5 linked regions of the Homo sapiens genome follow. The protein of the gene in region 5 purifies or fractionates together with the protein of the main gene of each other region. This does not show direct contact. Each region holds a gene or a part of one and is shown on either strand. Other genes may lie near its edges. The genes, in order: DFFB, NAXD, DFFA, CMBL and FAM111A.

Region 1 (3,516 bases), on a different chromosome or scaffold from region 5:
CCACCACGTATGTGCATGTTAAACCCACACGCGTGTGGTAAAGGTGCAGCTACACGGCTCTGCAGACCACAGCGTGGGAGGCCACGTATGTGCATGTTAAACCCACACGCGTGTGGTAAAGGTGCAGCTACACGGCTCTGCAGACCACAGCGTGGGCCACCACGTATGTGCATGTTAAACCCACACGCGTGTGGTAAAGGTGCAGCTACACGGCTCTGCAGACCACAGCATGGGAGGCCACATATGTACATGTTAAACTCACATGCGTGTGGTAAAGGTGTAGCTACACGGCTCTGCAGACCACAGCGTGGGAGGCCACGTACGTGCATGTTAAACTCACACGCGTGTGGTAAAGGTGCAGCTACACGGCTCTGCAGATGACAGCGTGGGCCACCATGTATGTACATGATAAACTCACACGCTTGTGGTAAAGGTGCAGTGAGAGGGCTCTGAAGGGCACACACACCTTTCACAAGTGTTTTCCCTCGGGGCAAGGTGTAGAGGCTGAGTATGGACAGGGTAAAAGCTCAACTATGACCATAGTGTTTTACATACTTTAAAAAAAAATCTCACTCCGAAAGCAATACAGGTTGAATGTCCCCATCTGAAATGCTGGGGACCAGAAGTGTTTTGGATTTGGGATTTTTTTAGGATTTTGGAATATTTACATTATACTGACTAGCTGAGCATCCTTAAAAAAATCCCACATCTGGCCGGATGCAGTGGCTCACACCTGTAACCCCAGAACTTTGGGAGACTGAGGCGGGCGGATCACCTGAGGTCAGGAGTTCAAGACCAGCCTGACCAACATGGAGAAATCCCGTCTCTACTAAAAATACAAAATTAGCTGGACGTGGTGCCACGTGCCTGTAATCCCAGCTACTGGGGAAGCTAAAGTAGGAGAATCGCTTGAACCCGGGAGGCGGAGGTTGCGGTGAGCCGAGATCACATCATTGCACTCCAGCCTGGGCAACAAGAGCAAAACTCCATCTCAGAAAAAAAAAAAAAAAAATCCCAAATCCTAAATGCCCGGATGAGCATCTCCTCTGAGCGTCATGTTGGTCGCAAAACGTTTTGAATTTTGGAGCACTTCGGATTTCAGGTTTTCAGATTAGGGATGCTCATCCTGTACAGCCATTTTAAGGGCATTTGAAGGCTTCTGTCTTCAAAAAGCAAGGGCAAGGCTACAATTATATTCAAGGAATGCATCTCAGTTTAAAAGAATGAAGTTTTCCATCCTGCCCATTTGTTAGAGCCATAGAGCTCGTACGGCTGTGAAACACTCCTGCCTGCTGAGACTTCTGCTCATGCTGGTTCCACAAAATAAGCCAGCCAGGCATGGTGGCGAGCACCTGTAGTCCCAGCGACTCAGGAGGCTGAGGCAGGAGGATTGCTTGAGGCCAGGAGTTCAGGGCTTCAGTGAGCCATGATCCTGCCACTGCACTTTAGCCTGGGCCACAGAGCAAGACTCCATCTCTAAAAGAAAAAGAAAAAGGGAAAAACACCCTTACCTATCATAACACCAGGAGCTCCCGCTGTCTGAGCTCACCCTGGTTCAAACTCACAGAGGTTCAGAACCTCTGACAGCCAAGGGCTGGGACCTGTGTTCTGGGGAAGGACGCTGCCCACCAGCTCCATCCACAGGGAGGACTGGAGGGGACAGGAGGGCTGGCTCCGGGTCAGGTACACATGCTGACAGTGGAGGGAATGGTGTGTGCCCACTCAGCAGCCCCCTATGCTGCCATCAGGTACCCCTTCCCTGGGCTGTAACACGGGTGCAGCCCTTGAAACCCAAGGAGGCAACACCGTGGCAGGGACAGGGCCGTGGCAGGGACAGGGCCATGGCAGGGACAGGGCCACGGCAGGGACAGGGCCCTGCAGGCACTCGTGGGTCTGAACCTCGCTCTGTGAGCTTACATGTGATCCAGGTTCCAGGTGCTGAAGAGGATCCTGCTCTCCCTGTTACTGTAGGGGTTGATGGAGTGTCTTGATAAGCAGCTGTCCATGTCAAAGGGACCCTGGGGGCCAAAAGACAATGAGGGAAGGCCAGAAAGTGAGTCTCTTTTTTTTTTTTTCTTGAGACAGCGCCTCGCTCTGTCGCCAGGCTGGAGTGCAGTGGCCCGATCTCGGCTTACTACAACCTCCGCCTCCCGTGTTGAAGCGATTCTCCTGCCTCAGCCTCCCGAGTAGCTGGGACTACAGGTGCCCGCCATCAGGCCCGGCTAATTTTTGTATTTTCAGTAGAGACAGGGTTTCACCTTGTTGGCCAGGATGGTCTCGATCTCTTGACCTCGTGATCCGCCCGCCTTGGCCTCCCAAAGTGCTGGGATTACAGGCGTTGAGCCACCGCGCCCGGCCAGAAGTGAGTCTCATACAGTCTCAGTCACCGAGTGACATGCTTTGGACGTGCAGCCCCACCCAGAGCTCATGTTGAAATGTCAGCACTAGTGTGGGAGGCGGGGCCTGGTGGGAGGTGATGGATCCTGGGGGTGGATTTCTCATGAAGGGTCTAGCACCATCGCCTGGGTGCTGCCCACGCCAGTGTGAGTCCTCCTGAGATCTGGCTTAAAAGTAGCACCCTCCCCTCAATCTCTCTCTCGTTCCTGCTCCCCGCACGTGAGATGTGCCTGCTCCTGCCTCCCCTTCCACCACAAGTGTGAGTTTCCTGAGGCCTCCCCGGCAGCTGAGCAGATGCCAGCGCCATGCTTCCTGTACAGCCTGCTGAACCGTAAGCCAATTGCACCTCTTTTCTTTATAAATTACCCACTCTCTATTTCTTTATAGCAATGCGAGAATGGCCTAATACACCAAGTCAGGTGATCTTACTGAGAGACGCACCCCGTGGGGGCTGGTCCCTGCTCCAGGGTATACTGCTTTAGGGAGATTCAGAGTTCTGCCTTGGCCGGGCACGGTGGTGACTCATGCCTGGAATCCCAGCATTTTGGGAGGCCAATGTGGGTGGATCACCTGAGGTCAGGAGTTCCAGACCAGCCTGGCCAATATGGTGAAACCCCATCTCTACTAAAAACACAAAAATTAGCCGGGCATGGTGGCGGGCGCCTGTAATCCCAGCTACTTGGGAGGCTGAGGCAGGAGAATCACTTGAACCTGGGAGGCAGAGGTTGCAGTGAGCCGAGATCGCACCACTGCATTCCAGCTTGGTGACAGAGCGAGACTCGTCTCAAACAAACAAACAAAAAAAAAGCTCTGCCTTTGGAATCAGATCCTTCTTTTTCCCTCATTACCCCTAACAATATGTTCTGAGTTCCCAAAGAGGACAAGGTAGTTATTGTCACTGTTACCCGTGTGATCACACACCAGCACCCCCACCTCATGGGAAGTGAGGCCAGGAAGGTACTGACTTGCCAGGGCAGGACCAGCGCGTGAGAAGCAAGGACCCATGTCCCAGAGGCTCCCTTTCCAGCCATTGCCCGCGGCTTCCTGATGTTTCCCTGTGATCCCAATGCAGAGGCAGGGCTGCCTCACTGAAGGTGCCATGGCCACAGCTTCCGTCTT
Region 2 (4,316 bases), on a different chromosome or scaffold from region 5:
TCTTAAGACTTTGTGAGATTCCCAGTTCCCTGGCCATGATGCTACCGTAAGGGCTGGGTCTAAGAACCCTGGAGAACAAGAAGCGCCATCCAGAAACTGAATATTTCAAGATTTACACATGAGAACAACGGCTCTCAAATGGAAGCTAGCTTAAAATTATGTTAAACTCATAATATAATTAATAGTAACTTTTTTGCTACATAATTTTAAAAATTCAAAGTGATACCAAAAGTAACTATTATTACATGTGGGGTTCTGAAACCTTTCGAGCACACAGACAACCTACATGGTAGGGGCTGACCTGGACATAAGAAGGAAGTTCTTATGTCTGGACTGGCAGAGAATCAGCACCCTACTACTGCCTGCCCACGAGGAATGTGGCACCATCCGCAAGCTGCAGCACTGACTGCTTCCATGTGGGACTCAATCACCTCGAACACAGCCTGGCACAGAACAAGACACTTGATACATGTTCGATGAAGTCAAGACATCGTGATTCACTCTCCTCACTAGCACTTTATCTTTCTTTTACAGATAAGGAAACTGGGGCCCAGAGAGAAACCTGTGCAGATGCTGTGGTTAGTAATGGACAAGCCAGGCCACAAGACACTATTTTACCAAAGTGCTGCCATGTTTTTGTTTTTATTTTTGTGGGCACACAGTAGGTGTAAAATGCTGCCATTTTAAGGCAAAATAAGAAGTATAGCATTTTCACTTGAATAGAATTGTATTAACACAAAGTAAAATCCAGGCTGCTCACCAGCATTCACCTAAGATAAACAGCTTCTGTTAGCAAAAGGGCCAAAGCAGGTCAACTAAACTTCCCAGCACTTGGCAGTGAAGCAAGTTCCAGCTGGCTTACTGACGTCACCATTTGAACTTAACATTTCAAATGTTAACACAGAAACATTTACATATAAAGATCAAAGTTCTGAAGGATAAAAAGGCCTTGACAATAGGCGACTTAAGATGTATCCCATTCGGTAACTCTTCAGACAATTCTGAGTCTGGAAGAACAGGTTAAATTTGTTTGGCTTTTGTTTTAAGGAAGCGTGTCTGGGGAAGACTATCACTGCTGCTTTGTGCTAAAAGTGCTTTTAGTACTGGAAAATTCTACTTAAAAAAACAAAAATACTTTAAGTTAATGTGAGTTATAACTAATTTAGAGCATTTAACCACAATCCCTAAGTTAACTGAAATATTTCCTAAAGCCTCAGTAATATACAACTCTACCTGGCTTTTCGTAAAAGTTTAGGCAGTCTGATAATAAATCCTCAACCAAGCGCAATGAAAAATCTTGCTACTAATCACGGTGTGTGAATTTAAGGTAAAGAGCTACAAATAAATCTCTAAATAAAGTGTTAAGAAGCCTCCCTGCTGGTGTGAGTGAGGTGCAGTGTAGAGTACCCTCTCAGCGCCACCCAGTGCATTCTCAGTGTGTGCTGATGAAAACAAAAAGCCAAACTCTCTGACGATGCCCAACATACACACAAGGTAAAATCTATCTAATGACTACAGCAACAAATGGTGCGTTTAACCATTTCGGCCACTCACTGGCTGGAGAATCCTGGCTAAGTCACTTTCTCTGAGCTTCTATTTATCTTCTATACCAAGGTGGATAACAGCAATCTCTCCTTATGAGAAATGAGATATACACGAACTACTTCCTGTATAAAATATGTTAGATACACCAATACCAACAAGGCAAACAGAAAGACAAAAAAACCCTATGAAGAGATGGGGCTCCAAGCACTTGCTCAGCTCCTGTTTAAATTCTTTCTACCTTATCCGTTCTATTTGAAAAGGCATCTCAGCGTGCAAGGACCAGCCAAGGCCAGGGCAGGGCCCTCGGGGACATCTGGCCAGCACTTCAGGTTCTGGGGATGACTCAGGTGAGCCTCCCTCCCCAAGGGACCTCCTACACGCACACACACACCCCGAACCGGGGGCGGGCGAAGGAGGCCTGGCTGGTGGAGTCCTTTTCTGCGGCCCAGGCGTCGCAATATCCAGTCCCTCTCGTCCAAGGACGTGCAGGGTCTGTACTTGCCCAGTCGCACTGGGACTTCAAATTGGGGATGCAGACACGGCCCTGCTCCTGGTGTGCGCGAAGCCCGCTCAGCCGGCCAGCTCGCCTGCACGCCCGCCGCGTCCCTGGGCCCCAGGAGGGCCCCCGTATCCAGCTCCGACCAAACAGCAAGCCCGCAGTTGGCGAGCATCTTTCCCAGACCGGGAGCGGGGACAGAGCAGAGCAGACGGATCCGACCAGCGCACCACGGCGCCCCAGGGCCCTCCTACCGTCCTCGGCCCTCGGCCCCCCGTTCCCCGGCCACCGCGCGGGCTCCGCCGCTCCTGGGACGCGCACTGGCTCCGGCCCGGCGCCACCCTCTGCCCCTCTGTCACCCCGCACGGAGGCTCCCATCACCCAAGCCGCGCCCAGCCGTCGCCGCGCCGTTCCAGGAGGCCTCCGTCCTCTCCCTACTCCGCCCCGCAGGCCACACGGCGCCCCGGCCCCGCGCGCGGGCTGCCCCTCGGCGGCGCTTCCCCCCCGCGAGCCAGCAGAGGCGGTCAGCGGTCGGGTACCTGCGTCCAGTGGCGGCCCGTACAGCGCGAGTGCGGCCGAGAGCAATGCGACAACGACCGCGCCGGCGACGGCAGTTCCGGCCCCCGCGCGTGTGACCATCCCCGGGCCAAATGGAATCGACCTTACCTCGTCTGCAAGCCCGGATTGCCCCACAGCGAGGACCCAGGGCCATCGGGCAGCATTCCGGATTCCCAGCTGCCCCCGCGCCGTCGCCGGAAACACAGCCATTGGAAGCGTTTTCCGGTTTCCCGACCGCCTCCGCGCGGCTGTCGGCAGTGGGATCCCAACTCGCTCAATCACACCCGGTTCTAGATGATTGACAAGCGCGACGCCCAACCCGGCCTGGTCCCAGCTCTGGCCTAAGAGGTTCGGCTGGAAGGCAGGTTGAAGAGTTAACAACGATCTGGTTCAGGGTCTGGTTTGTGTTTATCGGCCCATTTTTAGGCTTGCGGCGTTATAGAAAATGATTTTGCTGGCAGGTGGAGTGCCGAGGCCCACTATGTGCCCCCAGTATAGCAGTCAGGTGCCTTTCTGCTCCAGGCGCAACCTCTGCCCTGAACCCCAAACCAGCTCGCTGCGAGGCCCCTTCGCTTTCCACCGTCTCAGGTCAGGGCAGCTCCATCACTCCAACGCTGAGGCCCAAACCCCTGGAAGGCATTCTGACCTCTCCTGCCCTCCCACCCACGCTCCTCCTGTGGCTGATGGCCTCTTACCTCCACTGCCGCCCTATTTGAAGCCACCGTCATGGTGCTAAAAGAAACTTGTGGGGCCAGGTGCGGTGGCTCGCGCGTGTGATCCCAATGCTTTGGGAGGCCAAGATGGAAGGATCGTTTGAGCCCAGGAGTTTGAGACCAGCCTGGACAACATAAGGAGACCCCCTTCTCTACCAAAATTTTTTTGGAAAATTAGCAGGGGATGGTGTGGCACACCTGTAGTCCAGCTACTTGAGAGGCTGAGGTGAAAGGATGGCTCAACATGTCAGAGGCCTTTTAACCAGAGCGATTCCATCTTGAATAGGGACTGGGTAAAATGAGGGTGAGACCTACTGGGCTGCATTCCCAGGGGGTTAGACATTCTTGGCCACAGGATGAGGTGGTGGGCACAAGATACAGGTCACAAAGACCGCACTGATAAGATGACACAGTAAAGAAACTGGCCCAAAGCCTACCAAAACCAAGATGGCCACAAAAGTGACCTCTGTGTCCTCATTGCTCATTATTTGCTGATTATAACGTATTAGCATGCTAAAGGACACTCCTACCAGCGCCATGAGAGTTTACAAATGCTATGGCAACATCAGGAAATTACTCTATATGGTCTAAAAAGGGGAGGAACCCTCAGTTCCAGCAATTGCCAACCTCTTTCCCAGAAAACTCATGAATAATCCCCTCCTTATTTAGCCTATAATCAAGAGATAACTATAACTATGTGTGGAGTTAGTTCCTGCCGGTGGGTTCATGGTCTCACTGACTTCAAGAATGAAGCTGCGGACCTTCACAGTGTTACAGCTCTTAAAGGTGGCATAGACCCAAAGAGTGAGCAGCAGCAAGATTTATTATGAAGAGGCCGGGCGTGGTGGCTCATGCCTGTAAGCCCAGCACTTTGGGAGGCCGAGGCGGGTGGATCACAAGGTCAGGAGATCGAGACCATCTTGGCTAACACGGTGAAACCCTGTCTCTACTAAAAATACAAAAAATTAGCCGGACATGGTGGCGGGCGCCTGTAATCCCAGCTA
Region 3 (3,516 bases), on a different chromosome or scaffold from region 5:
TCTCAGCTACCTGAGAGGTTGAGGTGGGAGGATGGCTTGAGCCCAGGAAGTCGAGGATGCAGTGAGCTATGATCATGCCACTGCACTGGGTGACAAAGCAAGACCCTGTCTCAAAGAGAAATTTTCTTTGAATGAAAACATACTGTTTTTATCCCAATCTTTTTTTTCTTTTTGAGATGGAGTCTCTCTCTGTCACCCAGGCTGGAGTGCAGTGGTGCGATCTCGGCTCACTGCAAGCTCCACCTCCTGGGTTCAGGCGATTCTTCTGCCTCAGCATCCCGAGTAGCTGGGACTACAGGTACAGGTGCACACCACCAGGCCCGGCTAATTTTTTGTATTTTTAGTAGAGATGGGGTTTTACCATGTTAGCCAGGATGGTCTCGATCTCCTGACCTCGTGATCTGCCCGCCTCGGCCTCCCAAAGTGCTGAGATTACAGGCGTGAGCCACTGCACCTGGCCTATCCCAATCTTACTAGAGAGAAAACACAAGGAGAGAAGCTAAGCTACTGGCTCAAAGTCGTGGTGACAGCGCTGGGATGTGAAGCCATCTACTCCAACGCTACATTCTCTAGCAGGGCATCCCTGACCCCAGCGTCCACCTAACTAGGTTTAGGGTGGATCCCAGGCATTTGTATTAAAAAAAAAATCTGGCCGGGCACGGTGGCTCACGCCTATAATCTCAGCACTTTGGGAGGCTGAGGCAGGTGGATCACTTGAACTCAGGAGCAGCCTGGCCAACATGATGAAACGCTGTCTCTACTAAAAATACCAAAATTAGCCAGGCGTGTTGGTGTGCACCTGTAATTCCAGCTACCTGGGACGCTGAGACAGGAGAATTGCTTGAACCCGGGAGGTGGAGACTGCAGTGAGCTGAGATTGCACCACTGCACTCCAGCCTGGGCGACAGAGTAAGACTGTGTCTCAAAAAAAAAAAAAAAAAAAAAAAAAAATCCACAGGTAATTCTGCTTCGTGACGAGGGTTGAAAAATTACTCTAGGTGAGAATGAGAAGATGAAAAATCTTAGTTGTAATTTAAGAATTATTTAAAAATTAAGATTAAAACAAAGAAATTGCTATGGCAAGTATGGAAGCTAAGAAGGTGCTGGGGCGGGGGGCAGAGGCTGGATGAACATTGTTGCAGGTTGTGGAGGAGGCTTTACCTGGAGGTCCTCCTCTGATAGGAGGATGATGCTGGACAGATCTTCTTTCAGCTGCCTGGCCACATTCTTCCACTTCAACCCTGCCCCGCTGTCTGTTTCATCTACATCAAAGGACTCTTGGGAAATCCAAGCTGTACCTCCATCTGACACATGGGAGAAAATGCCAGTCACAGAACAACCTGAAGTGCTGTTTTCACCTCCTCCCCCAGCACACACAGACCTCTTGAGGATCTAGATTAATTTCAATGGGAAAGAAGCATCTTATCTCAAGGATTCACAGGAGGGTCAATATCCATCCAGGACCTTGATTTTCCCTCTTCTTTCATTTTTTTTTTTTTTGAGACAGAGTCTCACTCTGTTGCCCAGGCTGGAGTGCAGTGGCACGATCTTGGCTCACTGCAACCTCCACTGCCCGAGTTCAAGCGATTCTCCTGCCTCAGCCTTGCAAGTAGCTGGGATTACAGGTGCCCACCACCATGACCAGCTAATTTTGGTATTTTTAGTAGAGACGGGCTTTCACCATGTTGGCCAGGCTGGTCTCAAACTCCTGACTTCAAGTGATCTGCCCACCTCGGTCTCCCAAAGTGCTGGGATTACAGGCATAAGCCACCGTGCCTGACCCTCTTTCATCTTTATCTCTGTGTGCAACGGCTCTGTATTCTTCCATAGAAAAAGCCATTTAAACCCAATGTGTGGTCACACCTACAAGGAATCCAATCACACTTCCCTTTCTGGTTTCTGTGTGTCCAGGTGTGTCCTGTTTTTTATACGAAAACGGTCATTTGTGCCAGCATTTCTCTGTGCTTGGGGATTGGTCCCTTCTTTAACTGGCAGAGCTGTAGCCATCGATTGCTGTCCCTTAGGCCTGAGCACAAAGGTGGCTGGTAGGGCCACTGCTGTAGGATGACTTCCTCAATTTTGTGGCACACTTCAGGACACTTTTTTTTTTTTTAAGTCCCTCCCTAAAACTAATCCCCTCTCAAGACACTTCTTGATCCTTGGTCACCAATGTTAGTCCCCTTTCTATCTCCTGTGATGATGATGATGGCAGGGACAGGTAACAATTATTGAGTCCTTAACTATGTGCCAGGTAAGATCTAAACACTTCATATCAGTGGTTCTCAAGTGGGAGCAATTTTGCCCCCCAGGAGACATCTGACAATATCTGGAGTCATTTATTCTTGGTTATCACAGTTGTGGGGGGAGGTTCGTAACATCTAGGATGCTACTAAACGTCCTATCATACACAAAGCATCCTCTTCACAACTCCAGCCCCAAATGTCAGCAGTGTCATTGAGAAACCCTGGTTTGATATGTACTATATTATCTTTACAACAATCTTAGGGGACAGGTTCTATAATTATTATGTCAACAAGGCACTGAGAAGTTATGTAATTTGCACAAGGTCACCTGGTTAGTAAATGGTAGAGCCAGGATCCAGACCTCAACAGCTGGACTGCAGCCTGCAGCACTGAGCTCCCTGCCAGGCTGCATTTCAGTTGCTGTCTGTCCATGAGTTAGTTGAGAACTGGGCCCATGTCTCATTCATCTATTTTTTTTTTTTTTTGAGACAGAGTCTCGTTCTGTCGCCCAGGCTGGAGTGCAGTGGCACAATCTCAGCTCACTGCAACCTCCACCTCCCAGGTTCAAGCAATTCTCCCGCCTCAGCCTCCCAAGTATCTGGGATTACAGGTGCCTGCCACCATGCTCAGCTAGTTTTTGTATTTTCAGTAGAGATGGACTTTCGCCATGTTGGCCAGGCTGGTCTCAAACTCCTGAGCTCAGGTGATCTGCCCACCGTGCCTGGCCTCATTCATCTTTATCCCCAGGACTCAGCACCATGTCTGGCACATAGAAAGTGCTCAGTAAATATCTGTTGAACAAATGCTTAAAAAGCCAGACAAATGGCAATTGTCTGTGCAGTGAAAGTAATCATGATGGATGCTGTACTGCATAGGCCGTTTTATACATGGCTAGAGTTTCTTACCTGAATTGTTGTATGCCCATTTCTCATTACTAGCCAATGCCACAAACTTAGTATTGGAAGGTAGACACAGAAAGTAATCGTCATCATCCACTATGGTGCCATCCTCTGCCAGGACCAGGGTGACTGGTGTCAGGGACTTATCAATGGCCAGAATGTCACAGGCTGAAAAGAATAAAATATTTGGCAAATGACAAATAACCGTAAGGAAATTACATCTATCCCTGCATCTCAAGTATGTATGGCTCCAGAGCTGAGCAGAACTCCTGGTAGGTAATAACTAGAATCACAATCATCACTTCTAGCACTACCAGAACACTCATCACGTGCCTGATTCTGTTCTAAGTGTTCTTTTCTTTTTTTTTGTAGCA
Region 4 (3,516 bases), on a different chromosome or scaffold from region 5:
CAACATTGTCATTTGACACCATTTCAGAAAAACTCTCAAGCCATGTTTCCCTCTGCTCTCACAATACAGCGATCATCAACACCATGACCAAAGGTAAGGGGTGGGGGCGCGTGGGGCAGTGAGGGCTCAGTTCCAAGACTGCCCCACCCCTCAGACACAAGCAGCAAGTTCAGGCCTGTAGAGCTTTCTTTTTTTCTTTTTCTTTTCGGGTTTTTTTTTTTTTGGAGACGGAGTCTCGCTCTCTCACCCAGGCTGGATTGCAGTGCACGATCTCCGCTCACTGCAAACTCCGCCTCCCAGGTTCAAGCGATTCTCCTGCCTCAGCCTCCCAAGTAGCTGGGACTACAGGTGCCCGCCACTATGCCCGGCTAATTTTTATATTTTTAGTAGAGACGGGGTTTCACCATGTTCGCCAGGCTGGTCTGGGCTGACTTCTTATCTGGGCTGACTTCTTATCTGGGCTGTTTGTTGGCTATGAGGACCTAGGGATCACAGAAAATCCTGGCCATTCCAGGAAGCCTCTAATCTGAATGTTTTTACTTTATTTTCAGTTGACATCCATTTTGCAAAAGGAATGCTTACAGCCAGGCGAGCAGCCCTCTAGGCTGATCCTGCAAGGTTATTCTCCTACAGGAGACGCCCGTGTGTGTCGAAGGCTGGACTCCTGCCCAGACCCTCCACGTGGGCACAGCAGCCAGGCCACGCCTTGTGCCAGGGGCCAAGTCCACAATGGGCAGGGCGAACAGTTTCTACCCTGGCAAGTCTCAGGGAACATACCCTTGACTCTCAACTAACTGTACTATATTTTCTGTATATACCTTTCAGGATTTTAGCTTCCTCCTGCAAATGCACTGTAAACCAAAAATAAAATTCCAAGCATCCCAACTAACTGAATGGACCTCTCCTCTTGGCCAAGGCGATTCCAAAGAAACCTGTAAAACTAATTCAGGCCATGACAGGAAGGAGGGGCTAGGCTCAGTGGCTCATGCCTATAATTCAGCACATTGGAAGGCCAAGGCTGGTGGATCACTTGAGGCAAGGATCCAAGACCAGCCTGGCCAACATGGCAAAACCTTGTCTCTACTAAAAAAAAAAAAAAAAAATTAGCCAGGCATGGTGGTGCATACCTGTAATCCCAGCTACTTGGGCGGCTGAGGCAGGAGAATCGCTTGAACCCAGGAGGTTGCAGCGAGACTCTGTCTCAAAAAAAAAAAAAAGACAGGAAGGAGGAGTCCAACATACCTCATTATTCCCTCCTCCATTGAAGTTCAGGCACAAATGACCAGCATTAACATTCAAACAGAGGTCTCAAGACTGACGAAACAGACTTTTTGTAGAAATAAGGTATGAAATTCCAACCTGACTCAAATACAGCATCCAAGGATATAGACAGCAGGCCCTGAAACAAATCAAGTATTTTACCCCAAAATATTTTTGACATATTTTGAAAGGGCCCTGCAAAGCTATCTCTTGTAGGGGAAACTTACATTCTGTAGAGAATCCCCTTCCCTTTCCAGGTCTCTTTCTGATCCTGAAAAGATTACCTGAGAGTCTGGCAGCTTTTAAAGGTCTGAACAGAAAACATTTGCTATCTATTGCCTCTAAGGGTAGCCATCTATGAGACTTCACCTACATAATAAGAACTTTGGTCTCCCAAACCTCTTATCTTAACCCAGACCCTCCTTTCTATTGATTCCAGGTCTTTCATTATTAATTTAACTCTTTCAACCAAGCACCAATCAGAAAACCTTTGAATCCCCCTGTGACCTGTAAGCTACCACCCTGACCCTGCCATCCCCGATCTTTGAGTTGTCCCACCTTTCCAGACTGAACCAATGTATACCTCACATGTATTGATCGAGTTCCTATGTCTCCCTAAATGTATAAAACCAAGCTGTAACTCAGCCACCTTGGGCACATGTTCTCAGGCCCTCTGGGGGCTGTGTCATGGGTCATGGTCCTCACATTTGGCTCAGAATAAACCTCTTCAAACATTTTACAGAGTTTGACTTCCTTCTGTCAACAACACATGTATTTATTAAAAGATAATTTTCAGAAAGAAGTAAAACCATCACTCTTCAACAGATATAAAAACAAACAACATTGAGGATTGTACTCTACTTGAACGACAGGAAAAAACTAACAGATGTTCTAACAGGCTTGAAGGAAAATCAAAAGAGCACAAATGCAGCACTGGAAAGTGTAAACTAAAAACTCTAAGCCCCCAACCAACTGACTGGATCATCTCTTCACCAAGGAGACCCCAGAATAACCTTAAAAACTGAGTTATTGGCCATACAACTCAGTTATATAGTTATGGGTTGGGGGATCACACACCTCTCATTATCCGCTCCTGACTCACTAATCACCATGAGGCTTTCTTTTCTAAAGGCTAAACAGAAACTAGCCTCTTCAAACAACCCCACACTGATATCACCCAGCCGCATGACACTGCCCTCCTTTTTGCCTGATAACAAAACACCAACCATGACATGGTTCTGGCCTGTCTACAGAGGGTGCACAGTAAGGATTTTTGTGTCCTCTGCTTCAGCTTTTAACAACAGAGGGCCAAAAATACCACCCTTGGATCATGCTAACGCAGTCATTTTTTGAACATGGCTCCCATGAAGAGGCAAAAAGCTCAATTGCCCACGTACACGGTTCTCCTTCAAAAATATTCATGGCTGAGAACAGTGGCTCATGCCTATACTCCCAACACTTTGGGAGGCCAAGACAGGAGGATCACTTGAGTCCAGGAGTTCAAGACCTGCCTGGGCAACACAGGGAGACCCCATCTCTACAAAAAAAAAAAAAATTAGAAAATTAGCCAGGCTTGGTGGCACACACCTGTGGTCCCAGCCTTTTAGGAGGCTGAGCTAGGAGGAGCACTTGGGCCCAGGAGGTCAAGACTGCAGTGAGCCAATGATCATGCCACTGCACTCCAGCCTGGGGGAGTGAATGAAACCCTGTCTCAAAAGTATTAGCTAATCCATTATTTTAAAAATTCATAACCCCTCCTATAGCTTATTGAATCTGTGTGTTTGGCCACACTGTTCAGCACAGATCCCTGTACTATTCTTCCCACACTGGAAGGGTCTGTTTCCAGCTTCTGGCCAGAGACTACACTTCCCAGCCTGTCAGAATGGCCGCTTTGCGGGCTGCAACACTTTATGAGAAATAAAGCTCTCTTTTTCCAAATTTATGAAACTCATCATTCTTTAGTTGACAAAAGAAATGTTGAGATGAATTGCAAATGAAGACAAAATATCTTTTTGGCCAAACGCAGTGGCTCACACCTGTAATCCCAGCACTTTGGGAAGCTGAGGCAAGAGGATTGCTTGAGGCTGGGAGTTAGAGACCAGCCTAGACAACATGTTTTTTTTTTAACTTTTTTCCACAGGAGGGGAAAGAGTCCATTAATTCTGCATGGAAACGGGATAGAATTTACAGATCTATCAGATCTGCCACTTACTCCTAAAAATGGCTCAAGTACAATGAATGGAGCTGGAATCAGAC
Region 5 (3,516 bases):
GAACTATAAAACCCAATGCCAAGGATAGGTAAGTCTAATATTGGTAAACAGGCTTTAGTATCTGTGAGTTCTGTATCTATGGGTTCAACCAACTGCAGATTGAAAATATTTTGGGAAAAAAAAAATGAGTGTGCCTGAACTAAACGTGCATGACTTTTTTTTTCTTGTCATTATTCCCTAAGCAATACAGTATATCAACATTTTACAGAGCATTTACCTTGTATTAGGTAATACAAATAATCCAGAGATGATTTAAAGTATACAGGAGGATATGATACATTATATGCCAATACTATGCCATGTTATGTGAAGAATTTGAGCATTCATGGATTTTGGTATCCAAGAGAGGTCCTGGAACAAATCTCACATGGATACCAAGGGATGACTAGATTACATAAGTAGAATTTACAGACATACCGGAGAAAAATAGTGCTCGATTTTCATATTACATTTTTCATTGACTGAGTGCTTCCGTGACCTCTGCTTCTTACAGCTCATGATGGCTTGAAGATGAACGGATGGTTCAGCTGAAACACTAATTTCAAATTTTCAAATTATAGCAGTATCTTCAAAGCTGTCATTAATTGTACAGAGGAAAAGATTAGCTGGTGTCCTGCGTCCCATCTTTCCCCTTAGGCTCCAACCTTGCTCTCCCTGGAGATGGTACCTTAGCAAATAGATAGTTTATTCACCAACTATAATCACCTTAACAATAAAAGCTCTCTTTTCGAGAACACTGCGTGTCAGGCACTTCATGAAAATTATACTAAACACTTTATGAAAATTATCTCTAGCTGCAAATTCCTGCGGATGCTATGCAAATTAGGTATAGCTACACTTTGCTGATGGGGAAAGTATAGCTTAGAGAAGGTAGACGAACTGCCCAAGGCCAGAGCTATGTGGCAGAGATGGAATTCAAATGCAAGTATAAATAATAGAATAATTTTCAGTTGGAAATTTCAAAAAGCTGTTCTAGTTACATTGATGTTAAAATCTGTTATTCATTTAAGATGAAGATGGCAAGGGGAGATAAAATTACAGGGAAGTGGTGAGGATAGAGCTGAGGAAAGAAACTTGGAATGAGATTTTAAAAAGAAATCTGGAAAGTTTGCTAGGGATGATAGTCAGAAACCTTAGTTGCTGCTTTAGATTTTTTGTTTAAAGAGGTATTTTTCCTTCTATCTCTCCTCTGATGTCTCCCTAGAAGAGGATGAACAAACTTTAAATAAAATAGTGACATCTTCAATAGTAATAAATACCGCTAGAAAGATAAATACCATTGAGGGCAGCAGCCATGTCTGTCCTTAGTACCTCAATATTTCAAAACAATGTCTGAGACATGTCAGGCCCTTGAAAAAGATACATTTCTAAAGATACATTCAATAAACGAATGGAGTAGGCATATGGTGTACTATGCCCTGTTCTAAGTGCTTTTCATCAACTATCTCATGTAATTCTTACAACCCTATGAGATAGGTACTATTTGTCTCATTTTACTGGCAAAAGAGCTTGAACACCCAGGGAGATTAAACTTTTACTCAAGGTCATAAAACTCAGAGAATATACTTTCAGGACTTTTTATTATGAACAATTTATTAGAGAAAAAATGAGAGAATGGTATAATGAACTTCTACATACCTATCACATAGTTAATTGTTCATTTTTTTGCCAATTTATGTAACAGTGAAACAGTAAAAGAACTAACATAAAGAACTCTATTTTTGTTCACGGGGTCTTTATCCATTCATGCATGGAGGGGAGGTTAATTTTAGAGCAGTGAGATAATATGCAAAAAAAATGTAGTTTTAAAAACTAGCTCTGGGATTAAAGGGAAAGTATGTAAACAACTATGGATTGTTAAAAATTTACAGGAGGGTTGTGACCTGGAGAACAAATATAAATATAATCTTTAGATAACTTCCATTTGACAAGAAATACAGGGGCTAGAACATAAGCTAAACAACAACATGTAGAAGCAGCCCAGGAAATTAACATTCTATAGAGACAACTTATCTGTTCTCTTCAGCAAATCAATGCTTGGGCTCACTGGAACATCAGGACAAAGACATTCCCAACCTTCTTGGATCCTTGATGGTGCTCAGATGTCTCCAGTCAATGGTCACCTCTTGATCGTAAATCCCTTCTCTTCCCCATGCCCTTAACATAAAGAGCCTGAAACTTGTACTCACTTAAGAGGCTACTTTGGGTTGCTAGTCTGCCATCTTCTCAGTTTGCTGGCTCTCTGAATGAACCTGCTTTTCCTCCCACCAACTCTCATCTCTCATGTTTGGCTTTGAGGTGTGAGTTGCCAAACCCGGGTTTGGCTACCCTTACACCATCCTTTTATTTTACTAGATGATTTATGTTACAGCTAGAAACATCATGACATTTAAACGCTAATGGTCACTTCCCATCTCTAAAAATTACATAATTTTTCTTTTATAATCACAATACTGATTTATTCATACCAAGATCCAACTGAGGTACACAGTTTCCTTTATATGTCTTATAAGGCTCTTTTATTCTAGAAAAAGCACTGATTTGTTGAAGAGAACAGAGAAATTGTCTCTATAGAATGTTCACCTCCTGGGTTGTTTCCTCATGTCATTGTTTAACTTATGTTCTAGCCCCTGTATTTCTTGTCAAATGGAAGTTATCTAAAGGCTATGTTTACTCTCGTAACCATTCCACTATGGAACAAGAGTCCTGGCTTTCTAGTTTACTGTCAGTCATTGACTAGGGAAATTCATTTAGCCTTTCTGAGCCTCAATTTCTTGTTTGTAAAAAGAAGCAATGATTCTAAATGAGATAATGAATATGGAAGTGCTAAAATAATGTTAGAACTTATAAAACTGTCTGAGTTCAAATATCAGGTAGCCACTTACTAGCTGCATGACCTTGGGCATATTAATTAACTATTCTTCCTTCATTTTCCTCACCTTAAGGTGGGAATCAACCTTGTTATAAAGATTAAGAAATATATTGTGGTCTGGGTGCGGTAGCTCATGCCTGTAATCTCAGCACTTTGGGAGGCCAACGCTGATGGATCACTTGAAGTCAGGAGTTCGAGGCCAGCTTGGCCAACCTGGTGAAAACCTGTCTCTACTAAGAATTAAAAATTAGCTGGGCATGGTGGTGGGTGCCTGTAATCCCAGCTACTTGGGAGACTGAGGCAGGAGAGTGGCTTGTACCTGGGAGGCAGAGGTTGCAGTGATCCGAGATCACACCACTGCCCTCCAGCCTGAGGCCTGAGCAACAGAGCGAGACTTCATCTCTCTCTCTCTCTCTCTGTCACACACACACACACAATATATATATACACACATACACACACATATTATATATATTATATATGCAATCTATCTATATATACAGTGTGTGTAAATATATATATATATAGAGAGAGAGAGAGAGCATATGCAAAGCCTTTAAAACACTGCCTGTATGTAATAGGTCCCCCAGTAAATAATCAATAAAAAGGTCATGTAAATGTTATCAATATCAATACACTCACCA

Evidence for each region.
Region 1: the proteins of FAM111A (region 5) and DFFB purify together in Homo sapiens (co-immunoprecipitation; one large-scale study listed by IntAct). This does not show direct contact.
Region 2: the proteins of FAM111A (region 5) and NAXD purify together in Homo sapiens (affinity purification with mass spectrometry; one large-scale study listed by BioGRID and IntAct). This does not show direct contact.
Region 3: the proteins of FAM111A (region 5) and DFFA purify together in Homo sapiens (co-immunoprecipitation; one large-scale study listed by IntAct). This does not show direct contact.
Region 4: the proteins of FAM111A (region 5) and CMBL purify together in Homo sapiens (co-immunoprecipitation; one large-scale study listed by IntAct). This does not show direct contact.

What each region holds. Positions count from the first base shown.
Region 1 is NC_000001.11:3,870,974-3,874,489, reverse strand, and holds part of DFFB (DNA fragmentation factor subunit beta), read right to left. Parts: intron 2,019-3,516; coding exon 1,918-2,018; intron 1,477-1,917; exon of another isoform or gene 1,353-1,476; intron 1-1,352. UniProt on the Homo sapiens protein: Nuclease that induces DNA fragmentation and chromatin condensation during apoptosis. Degrades naked DNA and induces apoptotic morphology.
Region 2 is NC_000013.11:110,614,039-110,618,354, reverse strand, and holds the start of NAXD (ATP-dependent (S)-NAD(P)H-hydrate dehydratase), read right to left. Parts: upstream 2,811-4,316; 5' UTR 2,764-2,810; coding exon of another isoform or gene 2,754-2,763; coding exon 2,708-2,753; exon of another isoform or gene 2,681-2,707; coding exon of another isoform or gene 2,581-2,680; exon of another isoform or gene 2,002-2,580; intron 1-2,001. UniProt on the Homo sapiens protein: Catalyzes the dehydration of the S-form of NAD(P)HX at the expense of ATP, which is converted to ADP.
Region 3 is NC_000001.11:10,466,029-10,469,544, forward strand, and holds part of DFFA (DNA fragmentation factor subunit alpha), read right to left. Parts: intron 3,311-3,516; coding exon 3,149-3,310; intron 1,305-3,148; coding exon 1,162-1,304; intron 1-1,161. UniProt on the Homo sapiens protein: Inhibitor of the caspase-activated DNase (DFF40).
Region 4 is NC_000005.10:10,301,397-10,304,912, forward strand, and holds part of CMBL (carboxymethylenebutenolidase homolog), read right to left. Parts: intron 1,639-3,516; exon of another isoform or gene 1,488-1,638; intron 1,400-1,487; exon of another isoform or gene 1,243-1,399; intron 1-1,242. UniProt on the Homo sapiens protein: Cysteine hydrolase. Can convert the prodrug olmesartan medoxomil into its pharmacologically active metabolite olmerstatan, an angiotensin receptor blocker, in liver and intestine. May also activate beta-lactam antibiotics faropenem medoxomil and lenampicillin.
Region 5 is NC_000011.10:59,145,855-59,149,370, reverse strand, and holds part of FAM111A (serine protease FAM111A), read right to left. Parts: 5' UTR 3,515-3,516; intron 668-3,514; exon of another isoform or gene 575-667; 5' UTR 499-574; coding exon 418-498; intron 1-417. UniProt on the Homo sapiens protein: Single-stranded DNA-binding serine protease that mediates the proteolytic cleavage of covalent DNA-protein cross-links (DPCs) during DNA synthesis, thereby playing a key role in maintaining genomic integrity.